2 linked regions of the Homo sapiens genome follow. The protein of the gene in region 1 interacts with the protein of each later gene in a pairwise test. Each region holds a gene or a part of one and is shown on either strand. Other genes may lie near its edges.

Evidence for each region.
Region 2: the proteins of GPSM1 (region 1) and CCDC158 interact in a two-hybrid assay, tested with the Homo sapiens proteins (2 studies listed by BioGRID and IntAct).

The regions. Positions count from the first base shown.
Region 1 is NC_000009.12:136,330,512-136,343,109, reverse strand, and holds part of GPSM1 (G-protein-signaling modulator 1), read right to left. Parts: intron 8,664-12,598; coding exon 8,442-8,663; intron 7,145-8,441; coding exon 7,009-7,144; intron 6,190-7,008; coding exon 6,038-6,189; intron 5,670-6,037; coding exon 5,546-5,669; intron 5,265-5,545; coding exon 5,149-5,264; intron 4,556-5,148; coding exon 4,400-4,555; intron 3,404-4,399; coding exon 3,295-3,403; intron 2,241-3,294; coding exon 2,117-2,240; coding exon of another isoform or gene 1,950-2,116; exon of another isoform or gene 1,272-1,949; intron 1-1,271. UniProt on the Homo sapiens protein: Guanine nucleotide dissociation inhibitor (GDI) which functions as a receptor-independent activator of heterotrimeric G-protein signaling.
Region 2 is NC_000004.12:76,357,506-76,374,074, reverse strand, and holds part of CCDC158 (coiled-coil domain-containing protein 158), read left to right. Parts: intron 1-2,538; coding exon 2,539-2,658; intron 2,659-4,451; coding exon 4,452-4,649; intron 4,650-6,298; coding exon 6,299-6,781; intron 6,782-11,759; coding exon 11,760-11,949; intron 11,950-16,548; coding exon 16,549-16,569.

The sequences.
Region 1 (12,598 bases):
CTTCTGGGGCTTCTCTGCTGGCTGGGGAGGGGCCAGCAGAGGGCGGTGAGATTAATACGCTGACTGAGCCGCGCCAAGGCTCTTTGTCCTCCAGCCGCACGTAAGTCTCCTTGTGTTTATCAACGGGACACCAAACCCACCAGCCTCTGCCACGCCCACCGCCCCCATGGACCACGCCCACAACAGCAAGGCCACGCCCCACCGCGTCCCCGCCGGGCTGAAGCCCCACCTCCAGACGACTTCCTCCTCCCTGCCCACACCCCGCTGGGCAGCGCCCTCCTGTGCCCCCAGCCCTGGCGCCCCCTCCGCACGGCCAGGCTCTAGCGCGGCTCTGCACCCCCCTCCCCTCCCGCAGCTCGCAGATCCACCCCGCCCTCCGCACCTGCCGAATGGGGAGGCTGCGTGGGTCCTTCCGTGGCGCCCCCAACCCGCAACGCCGGGTCCAGACTCCCGGCCTCAAGGCCCTGTCCCTGCCAGGCTCAGCTGAGCCGGGGTCTCACCCAGGGCCGCCCAGGCTCTAGGTGTGCAGCCTGCCTCCCACAGCGGCAGCCGGGCGGCGGCCCCAGCCAGGCTGCCGGGCTGCCCTGGGCGGGGAGGAGGACCCTTCCCCAGCCCTGGGGGAGGAGGCGTCCGGCCGGCTGGAAGGGGTCCCGCACTCGGGGCGGCACAGAGGAGCCAGAGAGGGACAGAAGCTGCATTGTTCCAGCGTCCTCCCACTCCGGCCCCCCTTTTCCTTGGCTCCAAGAAAGAAAACGTCGGGAGGACCCAGAGCCGCAGCCTCCGCGGAGCCTTTCCAGAGCTGCTCCCAGCCCTGCTGCCAGTTGCTGCTGGGGTCCCAGATGGTGGCAGTGCCGAGCCAGGGACACAGGAGGGTACTAGGGGTGCCGCAGGAGCTCTCGGCAGAGCTCCCCACCCTTAGGAAACCCCGGCCATGGGTAGAAATAGGCCTGGACATCCTGGGGGGCACATTCCAGCCCATCCCCTACCCACCCACTGCCATCGGTCACAGCACCTTGTCCCACGGACTCGCTGAGGGCCCCAGAGCCTCTGCTCCTTCCTCTGTCTTCAGCCTCTGCGGTGGCTGACATGCACCCCCAATTTCCCAGGAGAGGTCATCGTCAGAAACCCATGAGCACTGTGGCACAAAAACCCAGGGGATGGCTGGGCACGGTGGCTCACGCCTATAATCCCAGCACTTCTGGAAGCCGAGATGGGAGGATCGCTTGAGGCTGGGAGTTTGACACTGGCCTGGGCAACATAGTGAGGCCCTATCTCTATAAAAACATTTAATTATTAAAAATAAGATAAGAAAAAGAAACTCCGGCAGCCCAGCACCACATCCAAGCCTGGTGTTCCCAGCCTGGTCCTTAGCAGGCCTGGGGGGCACCAGGTACGTTCTGGGAGGCAGGCATCCCTTCTCGGGGGCTGGCAAACTCAAGACCTTTGGGAGTGGGGGACACATGGGTGGGGCAGCTGCTCCCCCCAAGCCTGCCCCTCACCCACCTGCCAGCCACCTCAGGAAGTCGGCCCAACCTGGCACCACCCCCCTGGCACCTATTAGTCTTTTCGCTTTGCAGGGGACGTTCTGTCCTGTGTCTGCAGCACTGCTGACCGGCATGGGACGACCAGCGGTCCATGAATGAGGTCACCACGGTGGCCTCGCATGGCCTTGGGCCTTGCCTGATTACTGCCCCAGGCACATAGGGCTCCCACAGCCCAGCCCAGCCCAGCCCAGCCCAGCCCTCTGGCTGATGCCCTCTCGCCTCCCAGCAGCCCTCTCCTACTTGGGTCTGAGGACAGAAGCCCTCCCTGCACCGAGGGCTCCAGGGGGAGGTGGGGGTGGAGGCCCTGGAGCAGCCAGTGGGGCAACAGGCGACCACCTCCTGTCCTTCATCCAGCAGCCCTGCAGCGCCACTCAGGATGCGGGTGGGAAGGGCTCAGGGTGAACCTCAGGCCTGTGCTGTCCCTGAGGCCAAGAAGAACTGGCTTGTAGGCGCCATTTTCTGGCGGCTGCCACCTCCGCCATGCTGGCCTGGCCTCGATCCCACCCCTCCGCAGCTCCTGATGCGGTCCGTGCCTGTGGGGAGCAAGACCCCCCCACAACCCTGGAACTCACCCTGGGCCTCATAGCCGGCCAGGTCAGGCTTCTCTGAGGCTGCCGGGCTGGTCAGGCGGCCGAGCACCAGCTGCAGCTGCGCCACGTTCATGCGGGCCGTGAGCTCCCCATGGCGGTCCCCGATCTGCGGCGAGTGGGGTGGCGGAGCGGGCAGGTGTGGCTGGGGGCCCTGCTGTGGGCTCCAAGGGGACCTTAATGGCCCCCAGTACACCCGTCCCTGACCTTCTGAGTGACCTGAACTGGTCACTGACCCCTGGGCCTCTGAGGGAACCAGGACTCACTGTGGACCCGGAGGTGGAGTCTGGGGGTCTGTCCCTGGGTGAGGTGGCCCCACAGGTCCTCAACAGCCCCTAGTTCACCCCAGAGATGCTTGGGGTCCCAGGCGGTTGGGCCTGTGCCCTCCGGTGCGCGAGGGGCCCGGCCCCGCCCGGCTGCACCTCTCTCAGCCCCTGCCTTGTGCGCCGAGGCTCTGTGGGGGACCCTCCCGGGAACATCCACATCACTCAGGAACTAACTGTTTGCTTAAGTCAAGCAGAAGAGAGGTGGCATGGGGTTGGGGGGAGGGCCACATGGAGCCCTGGAAGGCCCTGGAGGCTGTAGCCTGCACTCAGAGGGACACGGGGGCTGCCTGCTGGCTGCCAGTGAAGCTCTTCAGACGAGGGCTCTGCTGACCTTCCCATGCCCGCCCCTCTCCACCCTCACCTGGGCACCTGCAGGCCTCCCCACCCGGCCACCTCCTACATGGGTCTATGGTGGTCAGTAGGGGCTGGCACCGTCTTTAGCATGAACAGGCTCGGGGTGTGCAGAGGGAGGTGGCGTGGGAGTGGGTGATGTAAGGACAGGCCGGGAGCCGGGAGGCCCACAGTTCATCTGTGATGTTCCGCCCTGACCACAGTAGGAGGGCGCTGATGGGCGGAGCCCACAGAGACCCTGTGCAAACTCTCCAAGGAGGAGGAGACGCAGCTGCCCAGGAAGGCACCAGCTGGGGGCTGCAGGAAAAACCCCCGGGCATGGTAGACATGTCATCACCAGGCCTCGGAAGGACCAGGCAGCTGCAATGGCCCTGAAAGGATGAGGGGGGCCCAGGCACGCACACGCTCGCTCGGGGCAGAGGGGACCCGGCCCGTCTGGAGTGGGCTGGGCAGTGCCCGGGACTTCTGGGGGCAGGCCTGGCTCACCTCCTGGGAGATCTGCAGGTGCTTCTTGGCGAAGGTCAGGGCCTGCGCTGGGCGCCCCATGGACACGTAGGCATTTCCCAGGCTCCAGCACGCCCGGCCCTCGCCCACTCTGCCAGAGAGGGAGACCAGATTCATACCCGCCCTCTCCAGGCCAGCCCCCAGCCCCAGCCCCTCCCCTGGTGGTCACGGCCCCAGCATGACCCTGGCTTCGAGGGTCATCAGGGGCCCCCAGGCCCAAGGGGCATTGGCCGGATGACAGGATAATGCCCCCAGCTGGACCTCCCACAAATTCTGCCACCTTCAAGCATAAGCCCCAATCAGCTCTGCCTTTTTTCTTCCCATTAAAAGGATTAGCGCAGAGTCCAAGCAACCTGGCCTGTGGCCGGCTCTGCCTTTGCGGGCAGTTTCTGGGCCCTTGGCCTCGCTCGCCCCCTGGCGGCCGGCAAGCCTCCTCCCTTGCACTCCCTCCACCCTTACGGGCACCCTCCAAGTCACTGGGTGAGGGGGTTGTTTTTATATTGGAGGGAAATGCGTCTAACAGGAATTTGATCATTTTCACGTGGACGATCCACTGGCATTTTGTACATTCATGCTGTGCAACCGGCACCTCTGTCTATTCCAGAACATTCTCCTCACCACGCCACAAAGGAAAACCTTGGGCCACTTTTAAGCCTCCAGGCAGGGCAGCCTTTCAAAAGACCTCTCCTCTCTGCTGCCTGTGAAAGGCCACAGGCCTGTGGCTCTGAGCCCCTTGTTCCGGCCACCACCCACCCCAGACCTGCACACAAGACAGTACTTAGGGGCCTGTGGTTTGCCAGCCTGTCTCTCTCCAGAGAGTGATATTTACATACATACATGGGTGGTGGGGGCAACAGGGTGGCGAATTGAGGGATGGGAGGGGGACCCCACCCGCTTGTGCCAGGGGTCAGTGGCCGGCCCAATGTCCACACTGTCTGGCTCAGTCCCCACAGTGGCGTTGCCACTCCTGGGTCACAGCATGGTCAGTGGCAGAGCAGGGGATGGGACCCAGGCCACCTCGCCTGGGCCGCGGTAATTCAGCCTGTGGGCCGGGCCGGGTCTGCCCGCCGCGTCCGCGCCCACGCACCTGTCGGCCAGCTCCTGGGCAATGAGCAGGTGCCGCAGGTGGTACTCGGCCGCGCGCTCGTAGTCCTGCAGCAGCGTGTAGGTGTTGCCCAGACTGTAGCAGGCCTGCGCCTCCACTGCCTGGTCCCTGAGCTGCCGAGACAGTTGCAGCGTCTTCCTGTGCAGAGTGGCAGGGTCAGCCCCCAGGAGGAGGGCTCCAGGGTGAGGGGTGGAAGGTAAGAATGGGGACGCAGTCTGCCCGATGGTCCCCTGCCCCGGAATCCCACTGGGGCCTCTCTGGGGTCCAGCTTCATCCCCACCCTCACATGGCCACAGAGCGGGACTGTTGGCCCCAGGGGGACGGGGGGTCCTGCCAGGCTCTGGCAAGTTGCCTGACCACCCTGAGCCGCCACCACTCCTCCCCGGAGGACCTGAGACTGCTGTGCCCACTGCTCAGGCTGAGATGGGGTTAAGTTTAGGGCTGGGCACAGGACCCCGTGCTGACAGCCGGGCTCCACCCGGCAGGCGCTGCTCTGTGGCTCAGGCCAGGAGGCAGATGGCCCAGACCTCCCATAGGCCGGCTCCCCCACCGCCTGCCTCCCCATGAGCTTTGTCCGTCTGCCCTTCCCGGGGCAGCCTAGAACCCCACCTTGCCTTCTGGGGAGGGGAGGGGAGGCAGTCAGATTCCCAGCTTGGGGCGGGCACTTCCTTGGCCTGGCATCCAGCCCCCCCGGCCTGCTGTCTCCCTGGGAGATTGTGGGGACCACCTACTTGTAGTACTCGGCGGCCACGTCAAAGCGCCCCAGGAAGACGTGGGCGTTCCCCAGGTTGCTGTAGGCCCTCCTCTCGGCTGCCTTGTCTCCAAACTCCTTAGCAATGGCCAGGCGCTGCGGAGACACACCGGAGGCCAGGTGGTCATGGCGCAGCCCCGGGGCCTGACGTGGGCGGACAGGGGCTGCCTCCCTGCCCAGGTGGCCGGCCAGAGATCTGTGTGTCCGGGTGAGCAGCTAGCAGCTGCAGGACCAAGTGCAGATGAGGCCAGGACTCGGTGGGGCGGGCCTGCTGCCTGGCCATACCACCCTGCCCTTTCAGGGACCGCCAAGAGGGTGGCTCAGCCCTGCCCCTGCAGCAGCCCGGCCCCTCCACCCTGTCACCCTGCCCGGCTCACCTCCTTGTGGAAGGTCGTGGCCTCTGTGAAGTTCCCCAACAAATAGTGGGTGTTGCCCAGGTTGCCGTAGGCCCTGCCCTGCGCCGCACGGTCGCCCAGCTCCTTCACCAGGGACAGGTTCCTCCTGGGGGCCGAGTGCCTCTGAGCCGTGTCCCTCCCAGCCCATGTCCTCACCCACCCCAGGCTAGAAGAGCTGAGTAGCGGCCTCCATGCGGCCTCAGGGCCATGCCCTGGAAAGAGGGTGGCTAGGGTAGGCTCCAGGGTCCTCGAGCTCTGAGACCTGGGGCTTGGTCATGTCCCCCAAGTCCCTGACAGGGGCAAGCTCAGGGGAGGGAGCCAGCAGCTGAGAAAGCGGGGGTGGGCGGACCTGGCCGTCACTGCCCTGGGAGCTGTCGGGAGGTATGGGGCTGGGGTCGGGGGTCTGGAAGTGTCTGTGGAGCTCAGAAACGCACAGGCCAGCCCCGGTCCCTGGGCTGGCCCTGCCCCACTCACTCGTAGAACTCGGAGGCCTTGCACAGGGTCTCTCGGACATCGGGCGGCAGGTGCCCGGGGTCCTGCGTGGCGTTTGCGGCGTTCCAGGACAGTTGCTTGCCTTTGGCGTGGTACACGTTCCCGATGTTGTAGAGGGCCCTCGCCTCCCCAACCTGTGGGCAGTACGGAGGGTTGGGGGCATGCCTCCACGGCCCCCCACACGATGTGCAGAGCCGGCACACCGGTGTCCTCACTGTCCCAGCCCTCGACAGCGAGGGCCTTGGGGGCTCCCACTGAGTCACAGACACTAAGGCAGGGGCGGAAGCCTGAGGACGGCACACCCGGGAAGCCAGCCTCCGCCCTCCCTCACCATCCCTCCCTCCTCTGCGGATTGGCGTGGCCAGGGTGCCAGGTCCTCAGCTCTGTCCTCTGATGACCGAGGCTGAAAGCTCCAGCTGGGACCAGATGCTGCGGCCTCAAGCCCCCTTGGTCACCTCCAGCTGTGTGACGGGGGGTAAGTCACGTCCCCCCAGCCTTGGTTTTCTCGCCTCACAGGGCCATGGAGGGAGGTCAGCAAAGCCTGTCTCGGGTCCAGCACAAGCGGAGACGGAGCCACTCTTCCTGCTGTCACCACCGCCATTGAAATCGGCCTCCCACTGCCGCAGCCCAGAGCCACCCCCTGCCTCCCGCTGGGCCCCCCAGGGAGTGAGTGACTGGGGGTGTGGAGGGATTCGGGGGGAGGTCACCGAGAGGGGCGGCAGAACTGAGGGTGGAAGGTGGGGGCCTGGGCTGCAGTGTCAGCATGGGCTGGGGGGGCCTGTTTTGGGGGCCCACACTCTCCTGAGTCACTCGGGATCTAGGGGACCGACCTCCCTGTCATCCCTCCCATGAGGAGCTGGATGAGTGGTGAGTCACCCGCCCGCCCCTATCCCGGATCTGGACGCAGGCCGGTGCAGGGGTGGGAGACACCCAGCCCCGGACCAAGCCCCCACCTTGTCTCCCTGCTCTTGGGCGATGCTCAGATGCCGCTGGCAGCAGACGGCAGCCTCGTCGAAGCGCCCCAGGACCTTGAGTGTGTTTCCCAGGTTTCCACTGGCCTTGGCCTCCCCCATGCGGTCACCGATGGTCCTGGATGGCAGGGAGGAGTGAGGGGTCAGGCTGAGGACTGGTCAGGCCTCTGGGCCCGGGGGGAGGCTGAGCATGGGGTGGGGTAGCTGGGCCTCAGGGACCAGCATGGAGTGGACAGGAGCCTGCAACCCCTGAGGTGATACTGGGCAGGGGCCCACAGGCCGGGCAAGTGAGGCCCGAGGGCAGCCCTGGGTATGGGCTCTGCTGGGCTGTGTCTGGGGCACAGGCTCCTGCCCATCACCACACAGGCTGCACACAGGTGCCAGGAGCTACACACAGGACCTCACGCCTGGGCCTGGGGCAGGGGGCTGGGGTCTGCAGCTCTTAGGATCCGGGGAGGACTTGGGGGGCCTGATGGTGGAGAACTAACTTCCTGCTAACTCATTCAGAGGACGTTTGGTGCATGCCCACCAGACACTGAGCTGGGTGCTGAGGAGCAGGTGTGAGCTCACTGGCCAGTGCGGGAGGGTTGCTCCAAGAAGCTCTGCCCTGCTGAGAGGTCAGGGCAGCTGCAGGGCTGAGGGGGAGGGCGCTGGGCAGGGCTGAGGCAAGGGAAGCGTGCTCCCGTGAGGCACGGCCTGGGGGCTGGACCCGACTGGAGACCCCAAGACCCCAAGGGGCGGCGGGGAGTAGGTTGGGGAGACTGGGGAGTGGATGACGCCAGGCAGGAAGGAGGCTGTGAGTGGGAGCTTGGGGTCCATGGGAAAGCAGGGACAGCCCCCAGGGCAGGACCACACCTCACTGAGCAGTGGCTGGGAGTGGGCCCGGGGCTCAGGGCCTGGGGCCTGGGGCCAGGGAAAGGGTGGGGCTCTGAGCCACACAGGATCACAGATGGGCCACACACAGTCACGAGTGCTCACGCACAGCACGCGGGTCACAGCCCAGGCTCTCACACGCAGACACACAGACCCACTCACGCCTGTCAGCTGAAACCCAGCTCCCTGCCGGGGTCCCAGAGCCCTGGCTGCCCTCCAGGTGAGGGCTTCCCCACTGCGTTCCCTTAGACCCTGCTTGCCCTGTCCCCCTCCTCAAACTGTAACTGCTGAGGACAGGAAGCGTCCACCTGCCAGCAGGGCCACCCCCACTCACCCGCCAGCAGGGCCGCCCCACTCACTGCTCCAGCAGGGCCGTCCCCACTCACCCGCCAGCAGGGCCATCCCCACTCACCCACCAGCAGGGCTGTCCCCACTCACCGCGCCAGCAGGGCCGCCCCACTCACCCACCAGCAGGGCCGTCCCCACTCACCGCGCCAGCAGGGCCGCCCCACTCACCCGCCAGCAGGACCGTCCCCACTCACCGCGCCAGCAGGAGGTCATGCTTGTGGTATTCCAGCGCCCGGCCGTGCTCCTTCAGGTAGAAGTAGGCGTTGCCCAGCTGGCTGTAGATGGCACTCAGTGTCTTCAGGTCCTCGGTGCCCACCTGCACAGCAGCCTCAAAGAAGGCCACGCCTGTCTTGAAGTCGCCCGCCTTGCACAGACGCTCGCCCTCCAGCGCCAGCTCTAGGCAGGACGCCTCCATCCTGTGCAGAGGAACTTGGCGTCATGGCCCAGCCCTGGCAAAGTCGCCCCGGGGCCGGAGCACCTCCGTGGCTTCACTACAGACGACGCCCCTGGGTGGGCTAGGGCACACACCACATCTGTGCTCACAGACCTAAGTGTCTCTTTGGGATACAGGCCTGGAAGCACGTGTGCGGCCCAAGGGCGCCCCAGCCAGCACACCTCTGCCAGCACCTCCTGTCCACCCCTTGTGCGGCCAAGGTCAGGAACGCCACTGGGGCAAAGGTGTGAGTTTGTGACCCCGGCAAGACCCTCAGGCCCAGGGGCCGGTGTTGCAGGGGGTGTGGCCCCCATACCCTGCCTTCACCCAAATCCCAGAGGTACGGGCTGCAGGGGCCAGGCACCCTAGCCATCCTCCTGAGCGACCACAGCTGCTGGGAGAGGCCCCCCTAATTCCCACCAAGAACAACTGAGGCTCCCAGACGGTAGTGGGGGCTTGTGAAGGCCACATGGGGGTCGGGTGGGGTGGGGATCTGATCTCGGCTCCTCCCCCACCCCCAAGCTCTCCCAGCCAGGGCCTGGGGATTCAGTCAGCCTCCAAGTCTCCAGGGGAGACCAGTGCTGCGGAGGTGTGGCTGCGGGTTAGCCAGTCCCAGCCCCTCTCCTCCTGGTCCCCCACCCACAGAGCTAAGCGCTCGCCGCTGCCAGCCAGGACAGGCCTGAGAACCCGCTGTTCCCAGGTGCTGCCCGCCACCCCCAGCGCTGCTGTGGGAAGATGTGGATGGCGCCCCATCCCAAGGTGAACTCCGCCGTGTGAGCGCCACCTAACCCCAAGGGCCAGGCCCTCTTCTGAACACCAACGCCCTGCTTGGCCGTGGTCCCCCACCTTCGGGCAGGGACTTTAGAGAAGAAACCCCTCACCCTGGGCCCTGCACAACCCCCAAGCACCCTGTGCGTCAGCTGCCACCCTAGCCCTGCTCACCGAGGGACCCCCACCCTGGGCCTTGGGGAGCTGCCCTTGGCACTCAGCTGCCGGGGAGGAGTGTGGGGTCACTCCGTGGCTGCCCGGCTCCGCACCTCCCTGCTGCCTGCTCTGGGGCCTGGTGTCCTCCTCCATCCTACTCTTACAGGTCACATGGGCCTCAGGCTGCTGCGCTGCCCTGGGTGGAGGGTCGCGGGGGGAGGACACACCCAGCAGATGCCATGGGGTGGCCAGTGTGAGCAGGCGGGCCCCCATCTGCAGGGTGCCCCCGGAGAGCCACAAAAGACTCAGCAAGGGCGCAGCTTGGGGGGCCCCAGGAGGTGGCAGGCACAGCTGGAGCCCAGGAGGGACCTGATTTCAGAGAAGTGGGGGAAGGGTTCAGCCTCGGCTGCTTGCAGGCCGGCCCCATCATTCCTGTTTGCTTTCTGTTGCTTTCATTTTTCATTTTTAAAACTTATGTTACCATTATTATTTTTATAGAGACACGGTCTTGCTCTGTTGCCCAGGCTGGAGTGCAGTGGTGCGATCTCGGCTCACTACAGCCTCCATCTCCCAGGATCAAGCCATCCTCCTACCTCAGCCTCCCAAGTATCTGGGACTTCAGGTTTGCACCATCATGCCCAGCTTTTTTTTTTTTTTTTTTTTTTTGGTAGAGATGGGGGTCTCACTATGTTGCCCAGGCTGGTCTCAAACTCCTGAGCTCAAGTGATCCTCTCACCTCAGGGCCAGGCCCTCCCACCCACTACCTGCCAGGCACCTCACAGCCACCTCACCCATCCCTCTGGGAATGGCCATCCGGATGCCACGTGGGTCACAGGAGCCCACCGTCGCCATGACAACCAGCCAAGCCCCATCCTGCAGCCAGCGCCACGCACGGGGCTTCCTGATTAAGGCCCACTTGCCCCACCCAGCCACTTTTCAAGTGGTCTCACTCGGTTTACTGCCCCCTCCTTCCAGGCAACATCGGAGGAGAGGGGCTTCAGGCCTGAGGCCTGGGTGTCTGTGGAGCCCAGACGCTGCTGCTCCGCAGATCTGATGATGGGAGCCACCTCCCGCCTCCCTTCCAGCCGGAGACGTGGCATCCGAGGCTCAAGGCGAAGGAGGCTTCTGGCCTGGGAAGGGCCTGGGCCTAAAAGTCGGGGATGGGTGCACGGATGGGCCTCTGTCATTCTGCACCTCCAATCTGGGATCCAGGCAATGCAGCCAGCCACCTGCAGCTGCACCAGGTGGGTGTCCCCTCCACTCATCCCAAGACAGCCTCCAACCACGCCCTGGCACCCACACCCACGTGACCACCCCACTCGCTGCCCGCCGCACCTCTTCCTCTGCAGGTTTCGCATCTTCTGCACGTAGAGCCACAGCTCCAGGCCCACGGGCAGCAGCAGCGGGCGGGGGCGGGGGGCGCCATACACCACCTTGCACACGGCCTTCTCCGCCAAGCTCAGGGCCAGAGGCGGGCCCTCCCCAGCAGGGGATGGCATCGCCAGGCCCCAGGCCCTCCTCCCCCAAGCCAGCCCTCGCCCCACCATGGCCACGGGTCCTGGGGGGTGGGCTGGCCTTAGGCTTCCCTGCCCTCTGACCTCCAGGATGGTGGGTTTAAAGCTCGGCGGGGGACTGCCAGTCCTCCAGCAGGTGCTCGGGGGCCTCCCCAATCCCTGACGTGGATCAAGGGATCAAGGACAGCTCAGAGGCTGGGTCAGCCTCGTCAGCAGCGGGGCGGGGAGCCCTGGGGTAATCCCGTCCAACGTGCTCCTCCAGGGACTGGGACCAGCGGCATTGCCCTCCCGTCAGTCACCCGCCAACTCCTCTGCAAACGTTTATCCAGTTCCCAGCGGGGGCTGCTCTGCCCCAGGACCGGGCTCACTCGGGAGCGCCAGGCACGTTTGTGAATGGAAAGAGGAATGGCGTCCAGAGTGTGTGAGTGCCCCCAGCCCAGCACCTCTTCCCCCAGGCCTGGCCCAGGGCTGGGCAAAGCTGGAATTCTGCGCAGTGGTGGCCCCTGGCCGCCTACCGGTTCTCCAGGCCCCTGTGCCTCCTCTGCTCCACCCGACCCCACCTGGCCCCCTCCCCAGCCTCCCTGGCACCAGCCCACGGTGCCAGCATGGGGCAGCGGGGGGGGGGGGCTCAGAGTCCTCACCATGCCAGCCCCACGTCTGCCGGGCCCTCTGTGCTCTCCCTCACCTGACTGGCCAAGGTGCGAACAGGGCCCCAGGTCTGACGGGGTCAGGGCCACGTGGGGCCTGGGGGATGCCGCTCCCCAGGTCGTGGGGCTTGGGAGGCATGGACCACGTTCCCCTAGCCTGGCTCCTTTCCTCAAACTTCCCAAGCCCCCGGCGTCCTTCTCAGCTGGGCTCCCAGCTTCTCCAGCCACCTGTGGCCCATGAGGAGGCTGGAACCTGACAGAGGCGGGGGACTGGGGGGGCAGGTCTTATCCCTGAGACGGCCACGGGGTCTGAGCAGAGGCAGGAATCCAAGGACAGGTGGGGGTCTTCAGGCCCTGGGCTCTCTCCTCCTTACCTTGAGGCCTTGTGGGCTCAGGGGTCCTACTCAGGCCAGACCATTTGTCCACCTTCAGGACAGCTTGGCCAAAGGCGGGGCAGGACCTAGAATGCCTCTCCCTTGCCCAGTCCTCGTCAACAGACTGAACCCTCAGACCCTCCGTGGTGGCTGGGGTGCCATCACCAAGGCCAGTTCCCAAGCCAGCACTGCAACTCCTACTACCTCCGGCCACCCGAAAGCCGTGTCCCTCAGTCCCAGCCCTGCTAACAGAATTGGCACCTGCCCCTCCCCAAGGCCGTCACCTACATGCTGGCCCCTGAGCAGATGCTGAAGAGACTCTGCTCACAGCTGGCTCTATCTGCCCCATCCCCCAGCCAGACACCCCCAGGGAAAACCACACCGACTCCCCTTCAGTGGCCAGGGGAGGGGAGAGAGTGAGGCGCAGGACCGGGCTGGGAGCACAGCGGGAGCTGGAAT
Region 2 (16,569 bases), on another chromosome or scaffold:
AAGCGATCCTCCCACCTCAGCCTCCTGACTAGCCAAAACTACAGGCATGCACCACCATGCCAGGCTAATTTTATTTTTATTTTTGTAGAGATGGGGTCTCACTATGCTGCCCAGGCTGGTCTCGAACTCCTGGCCTCAAGTGATCCTCCCACCTCAGTCTCCTGGAAAGTACTTCTTTATTAGATTAATAGAGTCTAGGAATACATTTTAGACAGTGATCTAATATTTTACGTGTACTTAATTCTGGTGAAATACTTTTTATACATAGCATGCAGCCAGATACAAAGTCAGTTTAGGAATATAGCCAATATAAATATTAAAGTCTATACTCTGATTTCTGTAGGTAAATGGGAAACTGATAGTCCTATATTAGTACTTTCTTAGTCATATATGTATATGTGGATATATATATAACTTCTATTCCTTATGATTATTATTAAAGAGAGATGTGTGTATGTATGTATAGATAATATAATTCAATATGTGTTGAATAAGTGAAGATCTTTAAAAATAAATAGTAAATAGTAAAACTAGAAAGTTCTCAAGAAAAAGTTAGTCTTAGTCATATGTTCTCTAGTTAAGAAAGTTTTATCATAGTACATCATCCAAACCAGGTTTTATTATTGACAGTAGATTGGAAACCTACTAAATAGCCACCTTAAAGCTAAGAAGGAATATGCACCATTTATGCAGACATGAAAGATTTCCTATTACTAGAAAGTAGATGATAAAATAGTAATGTAGATACCTACTTAAAGTTAAGATATCACCATATAACTAAGTATCAACACGTTCTCATTGTTTTAATATCTTATTATTTAAGTTATGATATTGTGTGGCTCAGCTAAAATCTAAACCCTTAGTCTCCACAGTCTGAGATCCTAGCCTCTTAGCATACGCTGAACCTAGACATAAAGAACTATAGAGGCCGGGCGCGGTGGCTCACGCCTGTAATCCCAGCACTTTGGGAGGCTGAGGCGGGTGGATCACCTGAGGCCAGGAGTTCGAGACCAGCCTGGCCAACATGGCGAAACCCCATCTCTACTAAAAATACAAAAATTAGCTGGCCATGGTGGCGGGCACCTATAATCCCAGCTACTTGGGAGGCTGAGGCAGGAGAATCATTTGAACCCAGGAGGCGGAGGTTGCAGTGAGCCGAGATCGTGCCATTGCACTCCAGCCTGGGCGACAGGGCGAGATTCCATTTCAAAAAAAAAAGAACTATAGAAACGCTATTAACAGTCATGCACTTTATGGCATGTGTCATAGAAATGCATATTCAAACAGATCAAACAGCTGCCTTGTCAGAATAAAATGCACTTTAACATCCTCTAAAATTGGTACTTTTATTCCCATTTTATATTAATAGTTGAACAAAATGAGGGTTAGAATGGTTAAATAAATTGTCCTACTGTAAATATAAATATATATAAATTCATCCTTTAAAAAAGTAGTGGCTATAAAATAATGACAATAGCTAATAACTTGTTACCATTCATTCTTTTATATTCAATGCCTTTTATTACCGAAACTTTGATATTCTGAAGCAAAATAGCTCTTCTAAGTACAATACAGTTCATTTATTTAGGCTCTGCAGCATGTTGTTTATGCCATATCAAGCTTCCTTTTTTTGAAACAGTTTTGCTCTGTCACCCAGGCTGGAGTGCAGGGACACAATCATGGCTCACTGCAGCCTTAACCACCCAGTCTCAAGCAGTCTTCCCACTTCAGCCTCCCAAGTAGCTGGGACCCCAGGTGTGCACCACCATGGCCAGCTAACCTTTAAAAAAATATTTTTTGTAGTGATGGGGTCTCCCTGTGTTGCCTAGGTTGGTCTTGAACTCCTGGGCTCAAGGGATCCTCCTGCCTTGGCCTCCCAAAGGATTACAGGCATGGGCCATTGTGCCAACCCTCAAGCTTTCTTAAATACCAAATTATAGAACATGTCTTCACAGAAGATAAATCTTGAATAGTATGAAAACAGGAGACAGATGTATTACAGGCAATTCCCAAATTCAACAGTACTAAATATTTCATTTTGTCTAATTTCCCTGGCTAAACTCAGCATAGATTTTCTTTAAAAAAAAAAAAAACTTTACAAGACACATCACAATACACTTTTTTTTTTTTTTTTTGGAGATGTAGTTTCACTTTTGTCACCCAGGCTGAAGTGCAATGGCACGATCTTGACTCACTGCAACCTCTGCCTCCCGGGTCCAAGCGATTCTCTTGTCTCAGCCTCCCAAGTAGCTGGGATTACAGGCGCCCACTACCATGCCTGGCCAATTTTTGTATTTTTAGTAGAGACGGGATTTTGCCATGTTGGCCAGGCTGGTCTCAAAATCCTGACCTCAGGTGATCCACCCGCCTCGGCCTCCCAAAGTGCTGGGATTACAGGCATGAGCCACTGCACCCAGCCTCACAACGAACTTTTATTTTTGTTCTCAAAATAATACCATTTGTTTTCCAAAGTCTATATTTATTTTATATTACCCACTGTCATAATCAGACACTGTTCAATTTGTACTTTCCTTTCAGACAGAAGAGCTGGAAAAGCAGTTAGTCCTTGCCAACTCAGAGCTAACTGAAGCCCGGACAGAGCGTGATCAATTCAGTCAGGAATCTGGAAATTTAGATGATCAACTTCAAAAGCTGTTGGTAAGATTATGCTTTAAAATATGAATAAGACTAATTCTGGGAAGTTTTTCACTGAAATATATCACAAAACTCGTTTCCTTTATAAAATTACAAATTTACAAAATATTTGTGCATACATGCAATAGATTATTTTAGACACAATTCAAGTTTTGCATATAAAATATGATATTCTGTATACTTAACTTTTTTCTTAAGCAGAGCTATTACAGTATTAGGTGAAGGAGATCTTGACATAGCCATAGTCTTTCAAGTAGATACCATATTCCATTAAATTGAAGTAGTGTTACACGTTCATTTTAAGGCCAAATAACATTCAAAACACATAAAAATTGTGTATATAGAAATTTGGAATGGACGGTTAGGTGAAGTTGTTTTAAAAGAAAAGGACAGTATGATTGTGCTCATAATGAAGCCACTCTGTCCTCTGTTAGAGGAACTATAGGATGAGAAATTTAGGAAAGGAAATGTTTGGAATCCCCTTTTGCGGTATTAGTGGTATAACAGAATAAATTTCTCGGCTTACCAAACCCCATTCCAGGGAATGGTGCTCTTTGCTGGTAAAGCCATCCTTTGCAGGCTGACAAGGGTTTGATGAGCTGAGGTAAGGATAGAACTGAGAGCTGTGTAGAGAAGCTCTTAATCTTGGCATAATTCTTCAGTTCTTTACCTAACATTTGCATGTTTTTCAGTGTTCTCCTATCTAATTTGAAAATCTTGGAGACTGAATGTCTGAAAGATCCTCAAACCTGGCCTCCCTTTTCATTCTTACCATCACCACCTCTCGTTCAACCCCTCATTACTCATTGCCTGAAGCATGGCAGTCTCCTTACTGATGTTCCCAACTCCAGTTTTTCTCCTCTTCACTCCTTCCTGTAAAGGGCTGCCGCATACATCTCTCTAAAATGTAGCTCCGATGATGTCACTGTTCAACTCAAAATTACTTTCTCCATAAAGTCAGACACCCTCCCTTTCAATACTGTTCATGATCCATCACCCTGCTAACCTTTCCAATCCTTTCTCTCTACCCGGACCCAGTGCACCAAGCAAACACACAGGCCCCTTTCCTGTCCCTTCTTCCTAATCTCTACATCTTCAGGTCTAACTCAAATACTATCCTGAAGCATTTTGATCCCTTTAGTGAGATTCTGTCTGCTATTCCTTATCTTTGTTCCTTTAATGAAAAACCACTTCCAGTTACTTATGTCTATGTCTTAACTTTCTCTTGGATCCTAAGTCATTTGAGTGTAGATATATCTTTGTTTTTACTAGTCTGACTAGAGTTTTTGCTCCTATTCAACACTATGTATTTTTTAAGTGACTGAAAAGGGAGGTAATTCTATTCACAGCCCAGATGCTACTCCAATTCCAGTACCAGCCACTATTCTGCCATCTCTCCATTACTTATCATTTTTCCTTTACTTATCATTTTTCCTTCATGCTTTTGAGCATTTCTTTATTATAGGAGCATACCTGATGTGAGACATAATGTCTTTCTTAGAAAATGCAAGACTTAAAAACAGGATGACTTTTAAAATCTACTGTATTTTCCTTTTCATTGTATATTATTTGAGGTCTAGTCCCTCGAGATAGACTAGTAATGCTAGAAATTTTAAGCAAAATGTTAACTTATTTTTCTTGGAAATAATTGCTCTTAAGCCATTAAAAAGGAATCAGATTCCAAAATCAAAGGTGTCTGAAATCACATAAAAACTCCAAATATGATATAAAGACAATATGTTTTATCTTAATTATTTAATAGCAGGGAGGAAAAAAGCATTCCTCTCTTTTTTTAGGCTGATCTACACAAAAGGGAGAAGGAGCTGAGTCTGGAGAAGGAGCAGAATAAGCGTCTGTGGGACCGAGACACAGGCAACAGCATCACCATTGACCACCTGCGGCGGGAACTGGACAACCGGAACATGGAGGTGCAGCGCCTGGAAGCCCTGCTCAAGGCCTTGAAGAGCGAGTGTCAGGGCCAGATGGAGCGGCAGGTCAGTGCCTGCACAGGCTGTGCCATCGCCAAACAATCTCCTCTGGGGAAATAAATATTTTATGTCTAAATAGAGCTTTTTATTTTTAACATATATGGACCTAAAATGGCTCCTAAAATAAAGCTATGGATTCTGTGAGCAATTTATGAAAACCTGATACTTATTTTTCATTTTATTTCATTTTTTGTTTATTTATTTATTTATTTATTTTTAGATGGCGTCTTCCTCTGTCACCCAGGCTGGAGTGCAGTGGCGCGATCTCGGCTCACTGCAACCTCCACCTCCCGGATTCAAGCAATTCTCCTACCTCAGCCTCCCAAGTAGCTGGGATTACAGGCGTGTGCCACCATGCCCAGCTAATTTTTTGTAGTTTTAGTAGAGATGGGGTTTCACCATGTTAGCCAGGATGGTCTCGATCTCATGACCTCATGATCTGCCCACCTCAGCCTCCCAAGGTGCTGAGATTACAGGCGTGAGCCACTGCGCCCGGCCTATATATAGACACTAATTAAACTAAATGTGTCAAGCTTTATCTCACTTGTACATTGTTGAAGAACTAAACTCTTATCCCATTGCCTTTTCACGTTTACCTAAAAATTGGTAACCTAATAATTGCTTATTTCTGCTGCAGAGAAGCATCAAATTATTGGGCAGCCTGAGAAGCAACAGGGTTGAAGGTTTCTAACAGATTTTTTTGCTTTATTTTTCTCCCAAAAGAGACTTGCCTCTCTTTCCCCAAGTCTCATCACTGATTGAGACTGATGAGTGCATTCCATTCCGGTGCACCCTCCAGTAGCAAAACGTGGACTGCCTTCTTAATAGCAGTGTACTTTCTGTGCTAGGAAGACATGGTTCTAATGCCAGTTACTGCCACAGGGACATAAAAAGCATCCCACAAAAGTGTAAGCTTCTCAGAATGTGAAAGCAAACCAAGGGACTGGTCTTGGCTTAGACCCAGGCAAAGCCATTAACCTACTCTCTGGCTTAACCTGGGCAAGAAGAAAGATGAAAGGACCAACTGGAAGTTAGAATTTTCAGCTTTTCCAAACAAGGATCAGAGAATATGAATGTGTGTGTGGATAAAAGCCATTATTCATTTTTTTCCTCAGAGGTAGAATTAAAGGTAAAGTTGGAGGGAAATTAAAAATAAGGGGTAGTTATTGTAAATTCCGCCACCCTTCCCCCCATTGCCAGGGTTATCTTAATCTAAATCAGTACAGAAAACATCCACAGAGGAAACTTCCCAAGACTGCACTCTAGAACACCGTTGTGGAGGAGCGTTATTATTTAATTAAGCCCTCTCCACCTTGGTCTAATTAGCATATGTCAGTCTTACATATGTTATAAGAGCTAGAGTTCTGACAGCAAAATGATTGAGTTAATTTAACTAGACATGGCTGGGTACAGTGGCTCATCCCTGAAATCCCAGCACTTTGGGAGGCCGAAGCAGGAGATCATTTGAGGCTGGGAATTTGAGAAGACCAACCTAGGGAACACAGTGAGACCCCCATCTCTTAAAAAAAAAAAAAAAGATCTTACTAAACATTGCCTAATTCATGATTTCATGCTTTTAAGTTAACTTGTATCTCTTGAGGTTGCCTATACCTATCCTCCCAAATCTATGAAATTCTCTTTTCTTTAACAATCAGATGGCAGCAATTCAAGGAAAGAATGAAAGTCTAGAAAAAGTATCCTCCTTGACTGCTCAGCTTGAATCCACCAAAGAGATGCTGCGCAAAGTAGTAGAAGAGTTGACAGCCAAGAAAATGACTCTGGAGAGCTCAGAGAGGACAATATCGGACCTGACAACTTCTCTCCAGGAAAAAGAGAGAGCCATCGAGGCTACCAATGCAGAGATCACAAAGCTCCGCTCCCGGGTGGACTTGAAATTGCAGGAGCTGCAACACTTGAAAAATGAAGGGGATCATCTCAGAAATGTGCAGACAGAATGTGAGGCCCTCAAACTGCAGATGACAGAGAAGGACAAGGTGATCGAGATTCTGCGACAGCAGATTGAGAACATGACACAGCTGGTGGGCCAGCATGGACGAACTGCTGGAGCTATGCAAGTAGAAAAAGCTCAACTGGAGAAAGAAATTAATGATAGGCGGATGGAACTAAAGGAACTTAAGGTCTGTAGAGTTTTTTTGTGATTTAACTTCTGAAATATCATTTATTAGCAGGTATGACCTGTACTGAAAAGTGGTTCTTGGTATCTGTGGACACTCTGAAACTGTTGGAAGGTGTTTGTTTCTATGTGTATATGTGTGTTTTTGTGAGAAAGGATAAATACTTTTATCAGATTATAGAAGGAATGGATGACTCGAAAATGGCTCAAAATCACGGGTACAAAAGAAAAAAGATCAGAAAATCTATGAAGTCTTTCCTGATACCACAGGAAAGTATTTTCTCCCTCTTCAGACAGACCTAAATTTGAACCCCGTCTCTCACTACTTAGTTACAGTGAAACATTGGACTGTTTGCTGAATCTTGGCTTCGATATCTGATAAACAAAACCAAACCAAAAAGTAAACAAAACAAAAAACTCCCAACAACCTGTTGGGTTACTGTGAGGCTTAAATCAGAAAGTATATATCAAGGAATGAGCCTATTAATAGTTTCTGGCTATTTAATAATTTAAAATTTAAATAACTTAATAATTTAAAATTTAATAAATATTAGTTTCTTTCCCCTGTTTTGGTCTCCTTCTGAACTTTCTCATACTTTATTTGTACCTGTTAAAACCTGGTTCACATTCTATATTGCCGTGTGTGTGTGTGTGTGTGTTTGTGTGTGTGTTTATGTAGCAGTGTCTCCTTTTCCCTACAAGATTGTAGACTTCTTCAACCAGGGTACACATCTTATTAGCCTTTGTACCTCCTGCCCCATATTTTTGTGCCTTGCACCCAGAAGGTGCTCGATAAATACTTATCAAAATTTAACACAATTTAATGGGTTTTTTAAAAAAATTGATTTCATAGGATTAATGTCACCTTTATCTCTGACTTGGTGAGTAGTAGGAGACAAATCACATATACTGTAGATGCTTCAGTTTCCTCCTTCTAAAAATAGGGCCAGCAATAGATAATTATCCATCTTATGGAAATAAACAAGTTCATTGCATTAAAAATAGAATTTTCTATTGCTTAAGTTTTTACCTGATTATATACATTTTTAAATGGCCAAACTCACCATGAAAAGGGACATAGAAAGGATTCTCAATGGCCAGCCCTACAATGAAACCCTTAGAACAGGTGTGATGCAGGGCAGAGCATATCAGAGGAGAAAGGATGGTTGTTCTACCTTGCTTAGGAAGATCACTAGTGGATTGCTAGTGTGTTAAGGTTCTAAACAGGAGAATCCCACTCTTATACTCTAAAACTTAAATCAATTTAATCCTCACAAAACCTTATGAGGGAGGCACTATTATTATCCCATTTTACAGCTGAGGAAACTGAGACACAGAGAGTTTAACTTTCTGGAGAGCAGCACTACCTTGTGGTTTGAACCTAGGCAGCCTAAGTAGATGTTACTGTGCAGTGGTTCTCAGTGAGAACCGGAATCGCCTGGAGGGCTTTTTAAAGCATGGACTGCTGGCCTGCTCCCAGAGTTTCTGACTCAGTAGGTCTAGGATGGGGTGTGAGATTTGGTGTTTCTGAACAAGTTGCCAGATGACGTGGATACTGCTGGTCCTGAGAGCATCCATCAGGATCTGTGTTAGTGCCTCAAAGGAATGTGGAGCTCCTGACTAGAGGGCCAGTGAAAGCTTCAGAGAGAGCTGGGAACCTGAAATGGGCAAAAACTAGGCAAAGAGAAGGAAGGATGGCATTCCAAGCCCGGGAAGAAGCCTAGTCTGTAATTTAGCCTAGAGATGGTGTGGGAGACATTAAAGGTTTAGGGGTAGGAAGGAGGGGGTAACATGAAGAAGACAGTGTTGGAAGTGGATTAATCTGGCATCAGTATGCAGAAGTGGCTTGGAGAGAGTAAAACTAATTTTCAGTTCCTAAATATGGAGCTGGAGCAGCTTCAGGGAATAATTTCCTAGGTAATTAGAGTTTCACACAGACACAAAGAACATAAGTTTAAAACTCAAGTCCTAATGCCACATCCACTTCCCTCTGTGATCTGATAAGAAAAAAAGGTGGGGGAATCATAGCTGTAGAAGGTATGGTTTCTCTCCTGGTTTCTGTCCCCTCTTCAGAGTGGGTACTGCACACATTGACAGCAGAGAAGCAGAGTGACTTTTATTTCAATAACTGTGGGTCCCCAGAGCTAGACCTTTCTTAAAAACAAATAAATAATAAGACTAAGAAAGGACTGAATTCTATCAGCTGGCCTCAAGAGGTGGAACAGGAGCAGCACTCGTCCTATGTGTGTTGTGATGCCTCAGGTTGTCCCAGGGAAAGCCCTCCCCGTCCCTTACTGCATGAGGTCAGCTGGATTTAGTGTGACAGTTGCCAGGAGTGGCTAGGCAGAGATCAGATAGCCCAGATTAGGGCCTTTACTGCCCAAACCCATCACAGGCGGGCAGTGAGACAAGCCTGGGGCTCCCCACCAATCCTTTTTGAACAGCCAAAAGCTTGTCATGTGGCTATATTTCAGATGTATCATTGGTCTCCACAGTTAAACTGCTGCTATAGCAGTCAAATTGCATCTGCCAGGATACTAAGGCCAGTAGGGCGATAATTTGGGGAAACAATCTGATGACCAAAGAAAGTCAATATTTTTTTCAAATGTCACTTATTCGGAAGGATCTAGGTCAGTTCTGTCCACCAGAAATACAGTGTAAGTGACATATATAATTTTAAGTTTTCTAGTAGACACATAAAAGAAATGTGAAATTAATTTTAATAACATTTTATTTAACTCATATTCAAAATATAGTGTTTTTAATATTATAATCAATACAACAGATCACCAAGATATTTTATATTCTATTTTTATACAAAGTCTTTGAAATCTGGTGTATATTTCACACTTACAGCACATAACTTAGTTTGGCCACATTCCAGGTGCTCCAGAGTCATGTGCAGGTATTGTGTTAGACGACACAGACCTACACCCTGGGAAGAGAGGGGTCCTCCTAGGAAGCCTTACCAACACAGATAGAGACCAGTTAGGAGGCACTGTGGCAATCCATATGCAAAGTGATGGCAGTCCAGACCTGCAGGTTGGGCAGGATTTGATCAACAATTGGGTATGAGGGGCGAGGGACAGGGAAAGACATGGTGACTTTGTGAGTTCAAACTTAGACTGGCAACATGGTAGTGCCTCTAACAGAGAAGAGTCAGAAAGGATTGTAGGGGAAGGCCCTCTGTGAAGAAGGAATAGGAATGTTTGAGTCAGAGTTTGCAGAAGCATGCCATGCTGGGGGTTTCTGACAGTTAGTTGGAAACGCCGAATTAGAGTTGCCATATTCACATTCCCTACCCTAGTCAAAGGACCAGATACTTTCACCACCACAAACCACCCCAGTCTAAGCTCCCACCTCTCTTGTTTGCTCTTCCAGTTGCCTTCTCACTGGTCTCCATGCTTCTCCCCCTACCCCCACGCCAACCACTGTTTTCCTTCATACCAGAGCCAGAGTTGTATTTTTAAATTGTTACACTACATCACTCTCATACTCAAAACTGTCCAATGACTTCCTGACTCACTCACAATGCATGCTCAAGTTCTTACATTGCCTCTGAGCAACCTGATCATTCCCTTGGCCCCTCTCTGACTTCATCTCCTGCTTACCCCAAGCTCACTTCACTCCAGCCCTACTGATGTCCCTGCTCTTCCCCAGACACGTTACCTGTACACAGAGCTCTTCCCAGACTGTCCACGTGTCTTGTCCTTATGCTCAGGAGCACAAGGAGCATCTGCTTAGATGTTACATCATCAGAGAGGCCTTTCCTTGCCAACTGTGGCAGGGTCCCCAAGACCGACCCCAGGTTTGATGATTCCCTAGGAGGACTCGCCAGACTCAGCATATAATCATACACAAGGCTAGGATTTATTACAGTGAAAGGATACAAAGCAAAATCAGCAAAAGGAAAAGGCACACGGGGCAAAATCCAGAGAAAGCCAGGCATGAGCTTCCAAGAGCCTTCTCCGAGTAGAGTTATGCAGGACATGCTTACTTCCTACTCCACCCCCTGCCCCAGCAAGACACCGTGACAACATCTGTCAAGTGCTGCTAACCAGAGAAGCTCATTAAAGCCTCAGTGCCCGGGTTTTTATATTGGAGTTTGGTCCCATAGGCCCCTCTACCTGGCAGGTATCCAGATTCCACGTTCCCAGAAGGAAAGCAGGGGTTCAGCATGAACACATTGTTTGCACAAACAGTTTAGGCACACTGAGCCACTCTTATTAGGGTGGTGGGAACCCTCCCAAAATCCAAGTTCCCAGACGACAGTCAAGGGCCAACCTTGTAAGCGGCCTTTTTGAGGAGAGCACCCAAACCTGCTATGTGAACTCTTTCTGCACACCAGCTTACCTCAAGTAGCAACCCCTCCCTTGCATTCATTCTGTACCCCTCACCTGCTTTTATTATTATTCTTGCCACTTCTCTTACCTGACATATTAAATATTTGTTTGTTTTCTTCTCTTCTTACTAGAGGAGGACATGAAGACAAAGACATTGTTTTGTTTATTGCTATCCAGGGCCAGGACTAGGGTGAGGTAACTGAGGTGCCCAGGTTAGAGGCCCTCACCTAGCTGCTTCACTTGCATTACCCTAGTCATAGCCCTGCTTCTATATCCCTTGCTTGTAAAATAGTTCCTGCCACAAAGAAGGTTCTTAATATGTATTTTTTGAGTGAATGGAGATAGAATAGGAATAATGAAGGGTTGTTGCAAGCAATACTAGGAATTGACATCTAAGGTTAAAAGAAAGTGAAATATTTTCCCACTTTCTATTGATGCTTTATAATAAAATACAAATTTAGTGTCCTGGGAAGTAATGAAAAGATAATAAATATAGATGGAATACAGATAGGAGGCAGAAAAGGATATTAAGTAGGAGACTGTTGTCAGATTTTAGGACTGTGTTAGCAGCTATCAATTATAACTATACATGTACATATTTTTTACTTCTCTATCCTTTGTATTTATCCATATATTTAGATATTAAAAGATAAAAAAGATGCAAAGATCCGGGAGCTTGAGGCCAGAGTGAGTGACTTGGAGCTGGAAAAGGTGAAGCTGGTGAATGCAGGCTCTGAGCGGCTCCGTGCAGTGAAGGACATCAAACAAGAGAGAGATCAATTATTAAATGAGGTGAAAACAAGTAGGAGTGAATTAAACAATCTTTCAGGTATGTTGCTTCAGCACAAATCCTACTAAAAAATAAGAGTCTTAGCAGTGAAGCCAATGTAGACCCTAGCACAATTGCAAAAGAAGGGTGTCTCACTCACATGACAAACATGAATAGTTATGCTGCCCCCATGGAGTTATTCATAGCATGAAATCTCATAGTTTTCATGAAGAGTTCCCACATCTTACACTTACTGACCTTAACTTTAGTCAGCCCTCAGTGTACTGGAAATTCTGTACTGAATTTCTAAGAGAAGTGTGAGGTGTCCAGAGTCCAGGCTTCCAAAAGGAAAACAGGTGTTCACATAAATCACATTGTCTGCACAGTTTTGTGTTTATGAAAGTGGAAAACCTTGAGTCCTTGGAGTCAAATAGCTTGATTAGAAGTTTACTAATGAAGTGACATGTGAAAATAGACATGTGAATTTATTGACAGGAAAAATCCATGGCCTTATATTAAACAGTGAAACACTCCAGTTTATGGTTGGTATGTGTATTAGTCCCTTCTCGCATTGCTGTAAAGAACTACCTCAGACTGGATAATTTATTTTATTTATTTATTTTTGAGACAGAGTCTCACTCTGTCCACCAGGTTGGAGTGCAGTGGCGTGATCTCAGCTCACTGCAAGCTCCGCCTCCCGGGTTCATGCCATTCTCCTGCCTCAGCCTCCCAAGTAGCTGGGACTACAGGCGCCCACCACCACGCCTGGCTAATTTTTTGTATTTTTAGTAGAGATAGGGTTTCACTGTGTTAGCCAGGATGGTCTCGATCTCCTGACCTCGTGATCCACCTGCCTCAGCCTCCCAAAGTGCTGGGATTACAGGCATGAGCCACCCCACCCAGCCCAGACTGGGTAATTGATAAAGAAAAGAGGTTTAATTGACTCACAGTTCTGCAGGCTGTACAGAAAGCATGGCTTGGAGGCCTCAGGAAACTTAAAATCGTGGAAGATGAAGGAGAAGCAAGCACATATTCACATGGCAACAGGAGAGAGAGAGACAGAGAGAGAGCACACAAAGGGGGAGGTGCTACACACTTTGAAACAACCAGATCGCATGAGAACTCACTCACTGTCATGAGAACAGCAAAGGGGAAATCCGCCCCCATGATCCAGTCACCTTCCACAAGGCCCCTCCTCCAACACTGGGAATTACAACAGGACATGAGATTTGAGTTGGGACACTGAGCCAAACCATATCATTCTGCCCCTGGGCCGTCCCAAATCTTATGTCCTTCTTACATTTCAAAACACAATCATGCCTTCCCAATGGTCCCCCAAAGTCTTAACTCATTCCAGCATTAACTCAAAAGTCCAAGTCCAAAGTCTCATCTGAGACAAGGCAAATCACTTCTACCTATGAGCCTATAAAATAAAAAACAAGTTAATTACTTCCAAGATACATGGAGGGTACAGGCACTGGGTAGATGTTCCTGTTCCAAAAGAGATAAATTGGCCAAAGCAAAGAGGCTACAGGGCCCATGCAAGTCTGAAACCCAGCAGGGCAGTCATTAAATTTCTAAGCTTTGAAATAATCTCCTTTGACTCCATGTCTCACATTCAGGGCATGCTGATGTAAGGGGTGGGCTTCCAAAACCTTGGGCAGCTCTGCCTCTGTGACTCTGCAGGGTACAGCCCCCATGGCTGCTTTCATGGGCTGGCACTGAGTGCCTATGACTTTTCCAGGCACATAGTGCAAGCTGTCAGTGGATCTACCATTCTGGGGTCTGGAGGACAGTGGCCCTCTTCTCACAGCTCCACTGGGCAGTGCTCCAGTGCAGACTCTGTGTGGGGGCCCCAACCCCACATTTCCCCTCTGCACTACCCTAGTAGAGGTTCTCCATGAGGGCTCTGCTCCTGCAGCAGACTTCTGCCTGGACATCCAGGCATTTCCATATATCCTCTGAAATCTAAGTGGAGGCTCCCAAGCCTCAACTCTTGCCCTCTGTGCACCCACAGCCCCAACATCACATGGAAGCTGCCAAGGCTTGGGGCTTGCACTCTGAAGCAACAGCCTGAGCTGTACCTTGGCCCCTGTTAACCAGAGTTGGAACTGGAGCAGCTGAAATGCAGGGCACCATGTCCCAAGGCTGCACAGTGCAGCAGGGCTCTGGATCTGGTTCACTAAACCATTTTTCCCTTCTAGGCCTCCAGGCCAGTGAGGGGAGTGGCTTCTGAGAAAGTCTCTGAAATGACCTGGAGACATTTTCCCCATTGTCTTAGCTATGAACATTTGGCTCCTCTTTACTTAGCAAATTTCTGCAGCCTTGAATTTCTCCCTAGAAAATGGATTTTTCTTTTCAACTGCATGGTTGGGATGCAAATTTTCCAAACTTTTATGCTCTACTTCCCTTTTAAATATAAATTCTAGCTTCAGGTTATTTCTTTTTTAATGCAAATGAGCACAGGCTTTTAGGAGCAGCCAGGCCACATCTTGAACACTTTGCTGCTTAGAAATTTCTTCTGCCAGATACCCTAAATCATCTCTCTCAAGTTCAAAGTTCCACAGATTCCTAGAGCAGGGGCACAATGCTGCCAGTCTCTTTGCTAAAGCATAGCAAGAATGATCTTTACTTCATTTCCCAGTAAGTTCCTCATCTCCATCTGAGACTTCTTCAGCCTGGACTTCATTGTTCATATCACTGTCAGCATTCTGGTCACAACAATTTAACAAGTTTCTAGGAAGTTCCAAACTTTCCCACATCTTCCTGTCTTCTTCTGATCTCTCCAAACTGTTACAACCTGTATCTGTTACCCACTTGCAAAGCTGCTTTCATATTTTCAGGTATCTGTAGAGCAGTATCCTACCTCTCTGGTACCATTTTTCTGTATTAGTTCATTTTTGCATTGCTATAAAGAACTACCTGAGAATGAGTAATTTGTGAAGAAAAGAGGTTTAATTGACTCACAGTTCTGCAGGCTGCACAGGAAGCATGGCTGGGAGGTCTCAGAAAACATAATCATGGTGGAAGGTGAAGGGGAAACAAGCACATCTTCACATGGTAGCAGTAGAGAGAGAGAGAGAGAGAGAAGAGGGAGGTGCTACACACTTTCAAACAACCAGATCTCATGAGAACTCACACACTGTCACAAGAACAGCAAGGGGGAAATCCTTCCCCATGATCCAATCACCTCCCACGAAGCCCCTCCTCCAACACTAAGAATTACAACAGGACATGCGATTTGGGTCAGAACACAGAGCCAAAGCATATTAGTATGGTATGAAGTATCATGTACTTCATAAAGTCAGAAGTTACTGAGCATTTACTATGCAAGACACTGTGGTAGAACCTGGAAACCCCACAATGAAGCTCACAGTCTAGTAGGGAGATAAACCTAGATAGAAATGGGTGAATAACCAGTGTGTGAGGCACAGTGAAAGTGTATTGAGTACAAAGATAGCACAGAGGATACAGAATTTACCTCCTGTAGGAAGTGACATCTGTACTGGGTTTGAAAGAGGAAAAGGAATTCAGCAGGTGAAAAAGGGGTGCAAGGGACATTCCAGGCAGAGAGAACATTATGGGCAAATGCATGAAGCCATGAAATATCAAAATGTGACCTCAGAAGTATTAGCTGGAGCAAAAGTGAAACGAATGAGGGCTAAGAAATAAGGCAGAATAGATAGGTAGAGCCGGGTAATGTGGAGCCCACAAAAGATATTAAGTAGGAGATTTTTTGTCAGATTTTAGATGGACTGTGTCAGTAAGTAAATTAGAGAAAAGAAAAGCAGACCAAGCAGTTAAGGAGGATTTTTGCAGTCGTCCCAGATAAATAGAATGAGGACTTGAATTAAGGCAGTGGCAGTGAGAATGGAAGGAAAGAATTAAGGATATTTTTGGAGGTTAAATCAACAGCACTTAGTGGTTGGAGGGATTAAGTGTAGGTTTCAGGATTTTAGTTTGTGGTATTGGAAAAGCAATGTAAGCAACTGGGAGAGGGAACCAGAAGGAAAGGCAGGCTTGAGGGCTGGAGGATGAGATGTAGGCACTGTGAGGCAGTTGGTTTCAGGTGGCACGAGGACATCTACATGGAGATGTCTGGACAAATGGAGCTGGAGCTTTGATCCTTTTCTATATAAATCTAATCATATAAATAGATACATATAAATAAATATGTGTGTGTGTGTGTGTGTGCACACATGTGTGTATTGTAGTATATCAAATGATGAGTTTGTGCCAAGTATTTTCACAGATACTGGAGATAAGTCAGATAAGACAGATGGCAGCCTCAGGTTACTTATAGTGTCATGGAGATTCATCTACCAGCAGATGGTGGTTAAATCTACTCTAGTGAACACGGTCATCCAAGAAGAAGGTTTAAGATGAGATAACTGCAAACTAATTATAATGTTTGGGAAAAAACAATGAGTAATAAGTGGGTAGAGGAGGAATAGGATCCACCCAAGCAGATTAAAAAGAAAGGGTCATATCCCTGGAATTGTGTATGTACATCTCATTTCTGTAACAAAGGAAGATGTAATTAAATGACTTCTCTTCCAGTTCTAAAATTCTGTGATCATTAATTACAAATAAAATATACTTAATTAACAATGGGATAGAAAAAAGTAACCATCTATTATTGATTATCACATTGTATAGAGGAGTATGAAGTCTTAAAAA